Linked DNA regions of Homo sapiens: region 2 is linked to region 1. Evidence: fine-mapped expression QTL. Tissue or cell type: coronary artery. Region 1 holds a variant in brackets; the other region holds the start of a gene. All regions are shown on one strand. Distances are between the middles of the regions.

What was found. PIP is the estimated chance that this variant, and not a neighbour inherited with it, causes the effect.
Region 2: SLC25A43 starts here. The variant in region 1 is fine-mapped to the expression of SLC25A43 in coronary artery (GTEx, PIP 0.93).

The regions. Positions count from the first base shown.
Region 1 is chrX:119,477,118-119,485,224 of GRCh38, forward strand. No RefSeq gene overlaps it. Among named protein-coding and RNA genes, the nearest start is that of SLC25A5-AS1, 12 kb to the left of the region's middle. RefSeq lists enhancers at 5,411-5,510, 5,561-5,610. The variant T/A (reference allele first, on the strand shown) is at 3,389.
Region 2 is chrX:119,394,996-119,403,102 of GRCh38, forward strand. It overlaps SLC25A43 (solute carrier family 25 member 43), which reads left to right and starts at 4,341. Exons shown (of 5, transcript NM_145305.3): 1 at 4,341-4,683. The coding sequence starts at 4,409. RefSeq lists a silencer at 4,205-4,864.

The sequences.
Region 1 (8,107 bases):
AACAATTCAACTTTTACTTAACTGTTTTGTGCCTTAGTTTCCCCATGTGGAATATGGGGATAACTTTAGTACCTACCTCATAGGAATAGTGTGAAGATTAAAGGAGTTAATATATGTAAAGTGCTTAGAACAATGCTGGGCACCTGCTTTACACAATTTTGCTCTTATTATGACTGTTATTGCTTTGTTTTTGTTTTTGAGATAGAGTCTTGCTCTGTCACCCAGGCTGGAGTTCAGTGGTGCGAACTTGGCTCACTGCAACCTCCACCCCCCAGGTTCAAGCGATTCTCCTGCCTTAGTCTCCCGAGTAGCTGGGACAAGAGGTGCAAGCCACCACACCTGGCTAATTTTTGTATTTTTAGTAGAGATGGGGTTTCACCATGTTGGCCAGGTTGGTCTCGAACTCCTGGCCTCAAGTGATCCAACCGCCTCAGCCTCCCAAAGTGCTGGGATTACAGGCAGGAGCCACTGCATCTGGCCCGACTGTTATTGTTTTATTGAAATGCTTTAAATTATTTTCACTTCATTCATGGGAGAATGGTTTAATGGATTTATCCTTTTCCTGCAGATTTTCTAAAACAGTCTCAAGAAAATGCTATATATACTATAGAAAGTGGATCACACACACACACACAGAGAGAGAGAGAGAAGGTTGTAAAGAAAGAAAAGGACATTTTTGGAATGGACTGAATGAATAGAAACATGTGCTTATGGTGATAATCCTGAGCTCTAACTCAGAGCACTTATTTTACAACACTGATTATGAAAGAGACCAAAGGTCAAAGATAAATCCGTCCTGCCTCACAACCAGACTGCACTGCTCACCTGACCCAGGGGCCACTGTGTGGTCACCAGGATTCTTCTCACAGCTTCCTTTGCTCTCGTAGTATTTCAAGGAACCCATGAGGTCCCAGCCTGATTACCCAACCCTATGACTTCACTCCCTAGGGAAAGAAGCTGCAGGGAGGAGAAAATTTACTGAGACCTTTAGAAGCAAAGGATCTCCTTTCACTTTCACAACTAAGTCCAGGGTTCAGGAGTCCATTTATTACAAAAATTGAGCTTCATAATGGCTTTATCCCAGAAGTGAAGATCAGGGGGTAAGGACGCTTGGGCTTCTGGGTAAAAGCGTGCTGTTTGCCAATTAGGGTAGAAAGCTAGGAGTTTGACCACTGAAATTGTAATCCCACTTCGGCTCCATGTTTCTTTGTCTTGGGTCATATCACATCCCGTCACTAGTTAGTGGCTCAGTTTGTCTACCAGGAAACCTGGAAATCAACTTTCCTTTTTAAGCTACAATATAATTCCTCAAATCTACTGTGGGCTGTGGTTCTTTTTGGAGTTTCTAGGGCTAGATAGATTGAATTAAGTTAAGCCTGCGTCTTCAGGTTAAACAATCGATACAACCAGGTAACAGTAATTTCTCTAAAACTACAGAATCAAGATCATAGCTCATTATTTTGACATCTTATATGCCAGATGTTGTGCTAAGCACTTTACATGGATTAACTGTCCCTATTGTCTCAACAGCCCTAAGAGGCAGGTATTATTATTCACTCCATTTCACAGCTATGAAACCGAAGCTTAGAGAGATGAGATAATGTCCTCTGAGCTATCTGACTCGGCAAAAGGTTTCAAAGAGAACTTCAAGGTGACCCTGTCCAACTATTTATTTTGGGTCATGAACTATATTAAAATATGAAAGCCGGCTAGTTTCAATACCAACTGACAAAATCCATTTGACAAATATTAAATAGAAATTATAATAACCTCAGTTGGATAAAAAAAGAGATAACAAAAGAAAAAATAAATTATAATAACCAAAGCACTGTTTGTAAAGTCCATTTTTAGAGTATGGGTTATTTTCTATTTTCAGCCAATTTAAGAATTATGGTCATTAAAAACTACTTGACCCTAAAGCTCTAGAGTTAAATTTGAATTTATTCACATTTCTTTGGCTTTTCCAAGACAGATCTTCCTTTTAAATGACGGCTCTTCACAAGGAATACTGAGCCTCTCTCTAAGGTTACAAGCCTGAGGCTGGGGTCATTAGGACTTTGCGTAAGGCCCATACCAACTAACAACCACAGGAGGAGTTGGTGTTGGCCGCACCCTTACCTCTAACCAGGGTTGGCTCTCAGAAAAATGCAGTGAGGCTGGGCACAGTGGCTCACGCCTGTAATCCCAGCACTTTGGGAAGCCTAGGCGGGCAGATCACCTGAGGTCAGGAGTTCGAGACCAGCCTGGCCAACGTGGTGAAACCCCGTCTTTGCTAAAAATACAAAAATTAGCTGAGTGTGGTAGCGGGCACCCGTAATCCCAGCTACTCAGGAGGCTGAGGCAGGAGAATCGCTTGAACCCGGGAGGCGGAGGCTGCAGTGAGCTGAGATCGCACCATTGCACTTCAGCCTGGGTGACAGAGTGAAACTCAGTCTCAAAAAAACTTTGGGAGGCCGAGGCAGGCAGATCACGAGGTCAGGAGATCGAGACCATCCTGGCTAACGTGGTGAAACCCCATCTCTACTAAAAATACAAAAAATTAGCCGGGCATGGTGGCAGGTGCCTGTAGTCCCAGTTACTTGGGAGGCTGAGGCAGGAGAATGGCGTGAACCCAGGAGGCGGAGCTTGCAGCGAGCTAAGATTGCGCCACTGCACTCCAGCCTGGGCGACAGAGCGAGACTCCGTCTCGAGAAAAAAAAAGAACAAAAGAAAAAGAAAAATGCAATGAGTTGGGCTTTGGGCTATTTTATCTGATTGCACCTTATATTGAGAGACAGTACTGTGCGCCTCATGTTCTGTTCCTCCTCCTGCACGTGATCTGCAGTTCCACTTGCCATTTCCTACCTATGTCATTCACTTTCATATTTCCAAGCTTGGCTGTACTATTGTTTTTCCCAGCATGCCCTTACCTGCCCCTCTGCCAGGGCATGATCCTTCAAGACCCAGCTCAGATTGCACCACCTCTGGGAGCCTTCCCAGACTCCACCTGCCCATACTCATTGCTCTCTCCTCTGTACTTCTAAAGTAATCTATCTCTGTCAGCTTCACAAAGGCAGATATTTTGTCTGTTTCATTCATGTGTCCCCAGTGTCTAGAACAGTGCCTGGCACATAGTAGATGTTCAAGAAATAGTTGTTAAGTGAATGAATTATAATGTTTATTTCATGGTATCACAACCAAGTATTTATTTGTCTGTCCTCATTAAGGGCTATGTCTCGTTTCTCTTTACATTCCTAAAACTGAGCATAGAACCTAACACATAGTGAATGTGTGGTAAATGTTTGCTGAAGGAGGAGATAAATGAGAAAATGGGCCAAGTGCAGTGGCTCACACCTGTCATCCCACCACTTTGGGAGGCCGAGGCGGGTGGGTCATTTGAGGTCAGGAG[T/A]TTGAGACTAGCTTGGCCAACATGGTGAAACACCGTAACTACTAAAAATACAAAAAATTAGCTGGGTGTGGTGGCACATGCCTGTAGTCCCAGCTACTCAGGAGGCTGAGGCCGGAGAATCGCTTGAGCCCGGGAGGTGGAAGTTGCAGTGAGCTGAGATCGCACCACTGCACTCCAGCCAGGGCGACAGAGACTCTATCTCTAAATAAATAAATAAATAAATAAATAAATAAATAAATAAATAAATAAAATAGCCAGGCACAGTGGCTCATGCCTATAATCCCAGCACTTTGGGAGGCCGAGGCAGTCGAATCACTTGAGATTGGGAGTTTGAGACCAGCCTGGCCAACATAGTGAAACCCAATCTCTACTAAAAATACAAAAATTAGCTAGGTGTGGTGGCGGGCACTGTAGTCCCAGCTACTCGGGAGGCTGAGGCAGGAGAATGGCTTGAACCCGGGAGGTGTAGGTTGCAGTGAGCCGAGATCGAGCCATTGCACTCCAGCCTGGGTGACAGAGAGAGACCCTGTCTCAAAAATAAATAAATAAATATCTGTATAACGAAATAAATAGAGAATGAATGAATGGCATGTTGTAGGGTTTGTGCATTGGTTATTGATTGGCATGAATGAATTTTGGCTCGATCCAGCCACTTGATACCTGGGAACAATTCTGTAGCAATAAATGTACAGGGCCTTTCTTTTTCATTTTCTTACATAATAATTCAGCAAATGTCCGGGGCCTTTTGACTTGCAGCTATTGTTTTTCCAGACCCTGGGCTTACAGGGAAGATCTGGATATTGCAGGGGTTGGGAAATCAACTGGTTCCTGTACTGCTGCTATGTTGTCCATGCTAGAGAACCAGAGAGGCGGGACCTTGGCACACACCCCTCCCCTCCTGAAATCTGTGTGAAAAACAGCTGACTCCACATCCAGGGCTTCTACCATACTGTGTTCATGGGATGCTGGCCTGTGCCACACATGTGCTGGCCATCTTGTCATGAGCCCCTAACACAGAGCCCTCCACATAGTAATTGCCTGATGGATGTCTGGTTGTGATGATGACAATATTGAACAGTGGCTGTCACACAACATGACTCAGGCCACTCCAAGGGGAGAGGAACAGACATGTTCCTGGGGCACCTGAGGACGCTGCCGATAGAGCTGTGCCAACTGCACGCCCATGTGACTGATTAGGGCTGATTAGGCCAGACCTGCTCCCAGACCTGGGCCTAATGTTCCCAGCTTCTAAGACTATTTCAGCCACTAAAAGCCCATGAGAACCCTTGAGTGAATGTGGCCCTTTTTGACGTGCTCAGGAAGCAGGCAGAGTTTGTTCTCTCTCACTTGTGAGTGGGAGGCCTCCAGGAGTGCAGCAGCGGACTTGCTCAGTAGTAACATCCATTGTCATTTCTTGAGCTTTGACTATGGGCCAGGCACTCTTTTAATTGTGGATACTCATTTAATCCTTTCAGTGGCCTTATGATGCAGGTGCTAAGATTACCATTTCCCAGATGAGGAAACCGAGGCACCTGGCAAACCACGTGTAACACCTGCAGATGAAAACCCTGAAAACAAAGGGAACCCCCCCCCAACTTAGAGAGAGTCAGAAAGTAGCACTTAATGCTGCGGTGCCTGGAAAATAACCACGGAGGCCCAGAGGAAGGGAGGGGTTCAAGCTCTTTAGGGACCATCGGCCTGCTTGGGGACCTACCCATGTGAGGAGCCCCTGGAGAGGCGCTTGGTGCAGTGGTTAAGAGCATGGTTCCGCCCCTTTCCAGCTGTGAAATGGTGAGCAAGATTCTAAGTCTCACTGCCTCACCTTGCTCAGCCGGAAAATGGGGTCAAGAACACTACTTGCCTGGCACTGTAGTGAGGATGAAATAAATTAATATTTGCGAGGCGCTTGGCACAAAGCCTAGCATATAATATGCGCTTAAGTGTTTGTTAAATAACTACGGGCTCTCTCAGAGTCGGCCCCTTCCCTTTAGGCGCCGGTTTTGTAATCTGGGAAACTTTGTAAAGAGCGCTCTCAGCGCGGTGGCTAAAACAGTCCGCTAGGACTATGCCGAGTAGCAGCAGAAGGAAATGGCCCGGCCCGCCAGGCGGGGAGCTGCAGACAACTAGGAGAGAGGAGGGCAGGGCACGCCCTGAGGGAAAAAACGCGGCTTTTGCAGGCCTAATGGCGGTTGAAAGTCGCCGAAGTGCAAGGCTGGATTGAGACAGACAGGCTGAAAAAGTCGCAGCGCAGCCGCAGCGGCAGCAGCCGATGGCCGACTCCTTCCTTTTCCAGTCCACGTGCCCAGGCGGGTCTCCGGCCGCCTCTCGCACCTGCCTGCAGAGGGCGCGCTGCTTCTCGCCTCGGCCTGGGCACCGCGGCCGACTCCGCTGGAAGAGCTGTGTCCTCCACGCAGACCGCTTTCCACCAAGCTCAGCTAAACCCACCGCCCCCAAGAAGTCTACCCTGGCCGCTCCAGCCAAGCTCTTCCTCCCCTGAACCCCCAAAGCATCATCAGCACTGCATAATTTAGAACTTGGATATGTGCTGGCTGGTCACTGTGTCCTACGTATGGGACAAATCTTGGCTCAACAATATCATACTTTGCATTTCTCCCCCGAGTCACACACGGCCATTGGCATACCGGCAGCCACATAGCGTGTGCCCAGCAAACACCTGGTGTACCTCTACTGGGTCTCACTGTATTGGCTCCCAAAGGAGACTCTCAGGATCCCTGATGTCGCCAAGCCCTGGGGTGGCAGAAGGGACACCTGGGAGGATGCCTGCATGGCCTCAGTTGCCACTTCGAGCCTTCACTGACCAAATGAGGTCGGTGTAGCCCACCTCAGAAGGCAATGCCTTCGTGCAAAGGAAACCCTCTGCCAGGGAATCCATTGATATGGAAATATTTGCTGAGCCCCAGCTTTGGTGCAGAGCCCTGTGCTGGGCACCAGGGACACAGTGAGGAATAGAAAGGATTCTTGTGGTGATGGGAGGCAGTGTAGAAAAATTAGAATAGCAAGAGATTTAAAGTCAGGCTGGGCGCGGTGGCTCACGCCGGTAATCCCAACACTTTGGGAGGCCAAGGTGGGTGGATTATTTGAGGTCTGGAGTTCGAGACCAGCTTGACCAACAAGGTAAAATCCTGTCTCTACTAAAAAAAAAAAAAAAAAAAAAAAAATTAGCAGGGCGTGGTGGCGCATGCCTGTAGTCTCAGCTACTTGGGAGGCTGAGGCAGGAGAATTGCTTGAACCCCGGGAAGTGGAGGTTGCAGTAAGCCAAGATTGCACCACTGCACTCCAGCCTGGGCGACTGAGTGAGACTCCGTCTCAAAAAAGAAAAAAAACAGAGAGAGATTTAGAATCAGAAAATCCCCCACAGGCACTAGCTGTGTGGCCTTGGGCACACCATGTCACTTCTTTGAGTCTCAGTTTCCTCTTCTGTATCTCTGAGGGAGTCTGGAGTAGGGTAGCGGTGGTCAGATCTACAATGATAGCCAGATTTATAATGTTTTAATGTTCATGAGAACATACTTATCCATGAAGTAAGTAATTTAAATTACATTTTTAACAGTACACATTTTTTTTTTTTTTTTTTAGATAGAATCTCGCTCTGTTGCCCAGGCTGGAGTGCAGTGGTGCCATCTCGGCTCACTGCAACCTCCACCTTCTGGGTTCAAGCGATTCTCCAGCCTCAGCCTCATGAGTAGCTGGGATTACAGGCGCTCACCACCACACCCAGCTAATTTTGTATTTTTAGTAGAGATGGGGTTTCACCAGGTTGGCCAGGATGGCCTCGAACTCCTGACCTCAAGTGATCCACCTACCTCAGCCTCCCAAAGTGCTGGGATTACAGGCATGAGCCACTGCACCCAGCTTTATTCCTTCGATTTAGCTGTAACTTTGTAACCAACCTCTCCCTATCCTCCCCTCCCCTCTACCTTTCCCAGCCTCTAATAATCATAATTCTACTCTCTACTTCTATGAGCTCAGGAGTTTTTTTTAGCTCCCACATATAAGTGAGAACATGCAGAACATGCCTGACTTATTTCACTTAACATAATGTCCTCCAGGCTCATCCATCTTGTCATGAATGACAAGATCTCATTCTTTTTTATGGCTGAATAATATTCTGCTGTGTCTGTGTGACATTTTCTCTATCCATTCATCCATTGATGGACACTAAGATAGATTCCATATCTTAGCTATTGTAAATAGTGCTGCAATAAACATGGGGAGGCAGGTATCTCAATACACTGATTTCCTTTTTGGGGGTATATATCCAGTAGTGAGTGGAATTGCTGGATCATATGGTAGTCCTATTTGTAGTTTGTTTTTTTTTTTTTAAGAAACCTTCATACCATTTTCCATAATGGCTGTACTGATTTACATTCTCATCAACAATGTACAAGTCCCCTTTTCTCTGCATCCTCCCTAGCATTTTTTTTTTTTTGTCTTTTTGACAATAGCTATTCTAGCTGGGGTATACATTATATTTTTTTAAATTGAAGCATAAAATGGAAGTGATGGTGTTTTGTGAAAACCAAATGATAAAATAGTTATGAAAGCTGTTGTAACTGAAAGAGGCACCACAAAGTTTCATTATGTTTACCACTGCTAAAATATATAGGAGGCACCCAGTTAATGTTTCTTGAGGAGAATGGAAATGTTTCCTGAGTGATAGGATCCATATATAAACATGAGAGTTAAGAGTGCCAGAAC
Region 2 (8,107 bases), 82 kb before region 1:
CTAAAAATACAAAAATTAGCCATTTGCCGGGTGTGGTGGTGGGCGCCTATAACCCCAGCTACTCAGGAGGCTGAGGCAGGAGAATCGCTGGAACTCAGGAGGCAGAGGTTGCAGTAAACCGAGATCGCGCCACTGCACTCCAGCCTGCACAACAGAGTGAGACTCCATCTAAAAAAAAAAAAAAAAAAAAAAAAAAAAAGTTGCCAAGGAAATAAAGATGTGTCATTAAAAGGAAAAAAATCTCACCAATGGCAAGGCAATGTCACAGAAAACACTGCACCTTCAGAGAAAATTGATGGAGAAGAGAATTTTTTAAATTGATGATACATGGCCACGGCAAAACAAAACAAAACAACAACAAAAAAAAAAAACAGGAGAAAAAGGTAAACAGTATAAAAAGGCACACAGGGTTGGGTGCGGTGGCTCACGCCTGTAATCCTGGCACCTTGGGAGGCCAAAGGGGGCAGATCACTTGAGGTCAGTAGTTTGAGACCAGCCTGGCCAACATGGTGAAATTCCGTCTGTACTAAAAATACAAAAATTAGGGCCGGGCACGGTGGCTCATGCCTGTAATCCCAGCACTTTGGGAGGCCAAGGCAGGTGGATCACGAGGTCGGGAGATAGAGACCCTCCTGGCTAACACGGTGAAACCCCGTCTTTACTAAAAATGCAAAAAAATTAGCCAGGTGCGGTGGCGGGCGTCTGTAGTCCCAGCTACTCTGAAGGCTGAGGCAGGACAATGGCATGAACCTGTGAGGCGGAGCTTGCAGTGAGCCAAGATTGCGCCACTGCACTCCAGCCTGGGTGACAGAGCAAGACTCCGTCTCAAAAAAAAAAAAAAAAAAAAATTAGATTGGTGAGGTGGTGGCTGCTTGTAGTCCCAGCTACTGGGGAGGCATGAGAATTGCTTGAACCTGGGAGGCAGAGGTTGCAGTGAGCTGAGATCGTGCCACTGTACTCCAGCCTGGGCAACAGAGCGAGACTCTGTCTCAAAACTAACTAAATAAATCAATAAATAATAAAAGAAAATAAAAGGGCACACAGTCAAAACTCAATCTCCCTTCCACCTCTGTTCCCAAGTCTCCAGGTTTCCTTCCCCAAAGATAACCTGATTATCAGTTTTTTGGGTATCCTTCCAGAGGAATTATTTCTTTTCTGTTTCAAAGGAAGGAAAGAAGGAAGGTAAGAAGGAGGGAAGAGCGGAAAGGAGGAGAAAGCAACCCCATATAAATATTTATTGGTCTGAGCATGAAAAAAAAATATGAGGAAAAACATTCACACACGCACCAAGCTCTTAACCGTGGTTACCTCAGGGCATGGGCAGGGGAACTTAACTTTCTTTAATACACTTCTGGACTATTTGTCTTGTTACAACAGGTATAAACTACTTTATAATTTACAAATTTCCCAAAAAGTAAAAAATAAAAGAAAATTAGGAGAGCAGGAATCAATCAACATTAGTATAAATATAACAAGATAAATTATATTCTAAGAAATACTAGCAAGTTAAACTAAAGTAATGTACTGAGAGATTTCAGTTGGTGAGAAGATAAACTGAAAAATGAAAGCTGGAGAATTTAAAAAACTGTTAGCATCTCCCAAGCCCTGACTGGGGCAACGAGAGGCTGCCTAGGGCTTAACTCTCAGCTGGCCACCTTTCTCCTTATATTGCAACATAACTTCTAAGATTTTTTTTTTTACTCACTGCCTCTTCCTTTTTAGTTATCATACATTTATTTTTAGCATAGCACCCCAATTTCACATCATGTACATTTTCCAAAGTTGGAGCTTGTTAACCTACTATGCTCTCCACAGACTTTTCAACAAGTGTGAAAAAGAGGCAATAAGGTTGGCTTGAGTATACAAGTCACAATCCAAATACAGGATATCCTCGGAGATTTATTTATGTTTAGGATGAATATACATAAGGTGCCCAATGCTAAGCAGATGAATGAGACTCTGGCTGAGTAAAATATGAACACCTGGTTAGCACATGATCATGAAAAGACAGAAGGCATCCAATATATAGTTTGGTGTTATTCATTTTATGCTTCAGTGTACCTGCAGTGAAAAATATACATTTTACTTTCTTTTTTTTTGAGACGGAGTCTCGCTGTCACCCAGGCTGGAGTGCAGTGGCGTGATCTCGGCTCACTGCAGGCTCCGCCCTCCAGGGTTCACGCCATTCTCCTGCCTCAGCCTCCCAAGTAGGTGGGACTACAGGCGCCCGCCACCTCGCCCGGCTAATTTTTTGTATTTTCAGTAGAGACGGGGTTTCACCGTGTTAGCCAGGATGGTCTCGATCTCCTGACCTCGTGATCCGCCCGCCTCAGCCTCCCAAAGTGCTGGGATTATAGGCGTGAGCCACCGCGCCCGGCCATACATTTTACTTTCAAGGTTAAAATAGGCCAGGCGCGGTGGCTCATGCCTGTAATTTCGGCACTTTGGGAGGCCGAGGCAGGTGGATCATCTGAGGTCAGGAATTCGAGACCAGCCTGGCCAACATGGCGAACCCCATCTCTACTGAAAATACAAAAAAATTAGTTGGGTATGGTGGCACATGCCTGTAGTCCCAGCTACTTAGGAGGCTGAGGCAGGAGAATCGCTTGAACCTAGGAGGCAGAGGTTACAGTGAGCCAAGACCATGCCACTGCACTTCACCCTGGGCGACAGAGCGAGACTCTGTCTCAAAAAAAAAAAAAACATAACTTGGCTGACCCAATCTCCATACAATGGGGTTATCACATGAAATGTTCCAGACCCACGAACTTCCTGAAAGAGCTTTAGAATCTTGTCCCGTTATCCAACAAAGGGCTTTAGGAAGTACCAGTACCCGAAGGTTTCCTTATTGTAATCCCCAAATTCCAATTCAAGCCCTTTTAAAGTCGGGGTCCTCCGGTCTTCAGAGTCATACATCTTTCTCAAGCTTCCCCCAGCCATCAAATTAGCTTACAACAAGACAGAAGAATTCACAAAACATGAAAATAAGCATTCCCCAATTGTTGAGAGCAGAGTATGGCTTCTGCAACTAGAACAAGTTCTCACAGTCAAAACCTTGTAATGTCATACTCAAGTGAGATTGACAGTGAAAAATAAAAAAGGAGAAACCCTGCAATGCCTTTTAGAAAACGTTCCTATAGCATTGTGTGTTAGTAAATGTAAATAACTATACAAGCCTAAAAACAACTATGTACCCGGAACATCTTGCTCACACCAACAGACTGCTGACAGTTCCTTTCCTTGTAATTATTAGTGACATGGCTTTTTTAGAAAAAAAAGAGACAGAAAGAAATTCTGAAATTCTGAAATTTTTGAACTGATTAAAGAATCCTCGGATTCTGGCCAAGCCTCTCTTAGCCATTCTTTGCCTCTATTGTTCTCTTAGCTTACAGAACCACTGAAAATGTCCCTACTGGAGTTAACTCTGCAGTCCTAGTAGACATATAGTGTAGCCGTTAGTGGAAACTGACATAAACCGCCCTAGATTTCAAACCGGTCTCTGCTTTGTAGGTAGCTGTGTGAGCCTGAGCAAGTCCTCTCTGTGTCTTGGTTTCCTCTCCTGTAAATGAATACCTAATCAGAACTAACACATATAAACTGCTTACCCATACCAGTCATTGTTCATTAATCCTTACAACAACCCCTAGGAGGAAAAAATTATAATCTCTGTTTTATAAAGCAACTGACACACAGAGAGGTTGAGTGACTTCCCCAAGGTCCCACAGCTGGTAAGCTGCAGAGCCAAGAATCTTACACAGGTTCAAGAGTCCAGATTCAAGTCCCCACACCCACACAGCCTCTGTCAATGAGGACATACGTACTTAGGGCCGTTTTGAGGATTACATGAGAACGTCTGTAAAGCCCAGTACTTGACAAGTGCCTGAGAGATAGCAACTGTGGTTGTTAGAATTTTTTACCTTCTGCACTGGGAAACCATCAAGGCTTTTTGGTTAGGCAGGAAAAAAAAATGGGTTGGAGGCAAGAGGAGGAGGAGGGAAGCGCCAGGGGAGGAAGACAGAGAAGTGGCACGTGAAAGGGAGAAAAGGGGCAAACCAGAGGAGAGGCAGGGAGGGGCGGCGGGGGCGCACTGAACATTTAGGAAGCAAGATGTCTAGCAGGCTGGGCCTTGAGAGAACAGTAACTGTTTCGCAACTGAAAGTCGCTACTCGAGCCTTGCCAACTGGGGAGACTATGCCCATGATATCCGCGGCCTCGGACCCCGGACCCTCCAGGCCCTCGCGCCCCACCCCCGACCAGCCTCGGGCCAGGCTAGGGCGTAGACGGGGCTTCCCGTCCCTCACGCGGGCCCGCCCCATGCCGGGCGGGGCCTGGGGCCCGCCACCTCCGCCCGTGGCCGGAGAGCCCCAGGCCCGAGCCACGCGGTCTTCCGGGCCCGGGTCGGGGCTCGATGGCTACGTGGAGGCGGGACGGCCGACTGACAGGCGGCCAAAGGCTGCTGTGCGCTGGGCTGGCGGGGACGCTCAGCCTCAGCCTCACCGCGCCCCTGGAGCTCGCCACCGTGCTGGCCCAGGTTGGCGTCGTGCGAGGCCACGCCCGGGGACCGTGGGCCACAGGGCACCGGGTGTGGCGGGCAGAGGGGCTCCGGGCCCTGTGGAAGGGGAACGCGGTGGCGTGCCTGCGCCTCTTCCCCTGCAGCGCCGTGCAGCTCGCCGCCTACCGCAAGTAAGAGCCGGGCGGGGCCGGGGAACCGGGAGACCGGACGGGGGTGGGGTGGGGGAGCCGCGGCCCGACGCCGCCCTGCTGCCTGGACTCGGGGCCCTGGAGTAGGGACGGCCCCCTTGTCGATCACCTGGGGACCCCTCGGGGCGGTGGGCCACCTCTATGGCCCCCAGAGTGCAGCCCCAATGCTTTTCACGTTCTCTTGGGGTTACCGCCCTGCAAGATGCAGTTTTGTGGTCCGCAGCCCTGGTCCGAGAGGCTTTCCGGATTGGACCGGGCGAGGAGGTGGAATGCAGCAAAGGATTTGGAGGAAAGGAATGAAAAGCTCTCCAGAGAGATGAGTCCTAACCATTTCCACCGTCCTCCAATTTGGAAACTTTTGCTTAGGCTGGCTTAGGAAGAGAGAGACCCTTTTAAAGGTGTTTTTGTCTGTGTGACCCAAGCCCCGAGAAGAAAGTGCTTGGTGTGGGGAAAGGACCCGATCCATCGATACGAAAAGGCCGCAGATTTTTGCCCACACATCTCCCCAACTTAAATGAAGCTTGACTTCAGGCTCCGACAGAGGCTGCAGCTTCCCCTCCCCAAGCTGAGAACGGCCCCCTCAGCCTACCGCTTCACCCCACTGGCCTCATTTATTTGGGCCTTTTCCACCTTCTCCCACATCAACAGCTGCTCCTTAGGAAAAGATCTAAAGGTGTAAATGCAGCCTTAAAGCTTCCACCGAGCTCAGAGGTACCTGCATTTGAACTGGAAACCAAGCCTGAAAGAATGAATTGGTAGTGATGGCATTTCAGGAAGCAGAGATGTTTCTGTATTGGGGGGACGGTCCCTGTGTTCCTCATTCAGTGGGCACAGTGGCATCTTTGATATCGCCTTGGCTCTGAATTAGACAAACAGCCCACATTTGGGAGAGTCGGTCTTGACCGCATAGTTTAGTCTTGGCGGCTAATAGTCAAAGGATTTTGCCTTGACACTGTCACTCACCTGGGAGGCCAGAGGTGGAAGGCTCACCTGGCAGCCGACAAGCCGAACGGAATCATCCTTATTACCTAGGCCTCTAGGCCAGTACTCATTTTGCCTCTGCCTGGAAATAGAGTTCCCTTCTCTTCCTCTGCAGAGGGACTCATGGGTGGGACCATGACATTTAGTTAAGGCCCTTTTTCCTCCCCACCTCTGCTTGCCCTCATCAACATCTGGCCTGCAGTCTGTAAACAGTTCTCCTCTGAGTCTTAATGACTCAGTTTCTCCCCCACTTCACCCTCTTCTCTACAAAGTAGTGTGGAAATCTTCCTTTGGATGGGATAAAATATGTCCAGAGGGGTGGGGGGCAGAACTTCAAAGGCTGGTTTAAGTATTGTGGCTCTTCTGCTAAGCACCTAGTATATGCACATTAGATTTTTTAAGCTCCTGCCTCCTGCCCTGTAAGGTCCATAGGACAGGAAGCATTGTGCCTGTTTTACAGATGCAGAATTGGGCTCAGAGTGATGACACCTCTTGTCAGTGACCGAGCTGAGCTCCACTACCTGGCCTTCTGACTCCAAATCTCATAGTCTTTCTGTTACATCATGCTGCCTCCCTGCATCCATTTGACACTAATTTAGTCAGGCTACATTAAGTCCCCACTGTGTGCACGATGCTGAGGACAATGCCAGGATGGAAGGGGCATGGTCCCTGTGCCCCAGGAGCTTACAGAGTAATAGAAGAGTAAGACTAATATGTCCATGACCATAACACACAAGGTAGCATGTGATTGTCATGGATAATGTGCTCTAGAAATGTACCCTTCTGATGAGCGATGAGGAGGAGAAAATGTGAAGACTTCATAGAGGAGAAAAAAATTTGAGTTTGGCATTGGGAGAATGAGGAGTCTGCTGGGCAGAGATGGAGAGAAAGATACTGCAGTTGATGTCAGCAAATGCACAGAGGTGGGAAGGCAAGCAGCACAACAGGAAGTCCAACCAGAAAAGCAGGTTGGAATGAGATATTAGAGGGTTGGATTAAGGGATTTGGACTTGACTTGGTATCCAAGGGTAGCTGTGGGAGGTTTTTGTGGGGGGTGGGGGGAGGTGTGTTGTGATTAAAGCAATTCAATGGAAATGATCGTCACATCGTGGCAGAGTAAGATGACTAGAGAGGAGGAAGAGTGGAGACAGCAGGGCCAGTTAGGAACCTGTTGCACTAGTCCACATAGCAGCTGAGGGCACCGGCAATAGGTGACCATGGGAGCAGAGAGGAGGAGATGTCTGGGAGAACGAGAACAGAGACTTACCTGGGCTAGGTTTGCTAGGAATTTTTTTTCCCCTACAGGATTATTTTCTTTCTGAAAACTAAAAGGAAGTATTTTGGTGAATGGCAAGGCATAGTTGGAAAGCAAAGTGTTTGATTAATCGCGATGCCATCCTTCCTACATCAACATGATACTCTTGATTCATCATTATACTGATTCATTTCTACTCTTTTCTGACCATGAATTTGCAAAACAGTTGGCTGGGGGCCTGTGATCATGGGTTTGAACAAAACATAAACATCCAGAATGTTCAGGGAATGGGGTAGTTAAGTGACTTGTCCACAAATGCAATTAATGGAAGAGCTGGAACTTGAAGCCAAGTCTTCTGGCTCCTTAGTTCAGGTCTCTGTCTACCATTGCACAGCAGAAATATCTGCTTAGTTGGATTGACGATCAAGAGTCCACTCAGTAGTCTGTTGGGAGCTAGGTTATTGTAATGGGTGGCTTTCAGATGTATCAAATAGAAGACCCCCCCGCCCTGGAACTTCACAACCGCTTGTCTATCTTATCTAATAAACGTTAGTTTGGGTCCCTGCAGCTCTGAAATTGTTCATAACCAACACTATTTCTTTATTGAATAAGCACTTCATGAGCTTATGTTTGGCTGCACTGGCTGCCAACCTGTTAGGTTGAAGTATTGGCAGTTATAATTACACATATCCAGGGTGTGTGTTGTATCTGTGCTGGCTGAAAGGAAGGGGTTGCTGCAATTCACCAGTGTATCCAGTCTCACTGGAAAAAGCTTCTGTGCATGTATGTGTGGGGGTGGGAGGAAGAACAGAAAAGGGAACAGTGCCGCCCTAGCAAATCAAAAGTTTAAGATGCATGGACTGAGATGACATCATTGGCGGATTATCAGGGTTGCCTGCCCTGACTCTGAGATTCTAAGGGGAACAATTGATAGGACTTATCTCTGTATCAGATGGGAGAAGTCTGCGAAAAAAGGACTTCCTATGGTTCTTCTTTTTAATTGTGTATATTTGATATTGAGACTCTATAAAAGAAACTGATATAAAATACGGCTCCTCTTCCTAGTTCATCAAGTCATTCAGTGAATTAAGGGCCTGTTTCCTCTCCGCTTGCCCCTACCAGTCATTTCCTTGTCAGAAGTGTTGAACTCCCTTAGGCTCTATGCTGAGG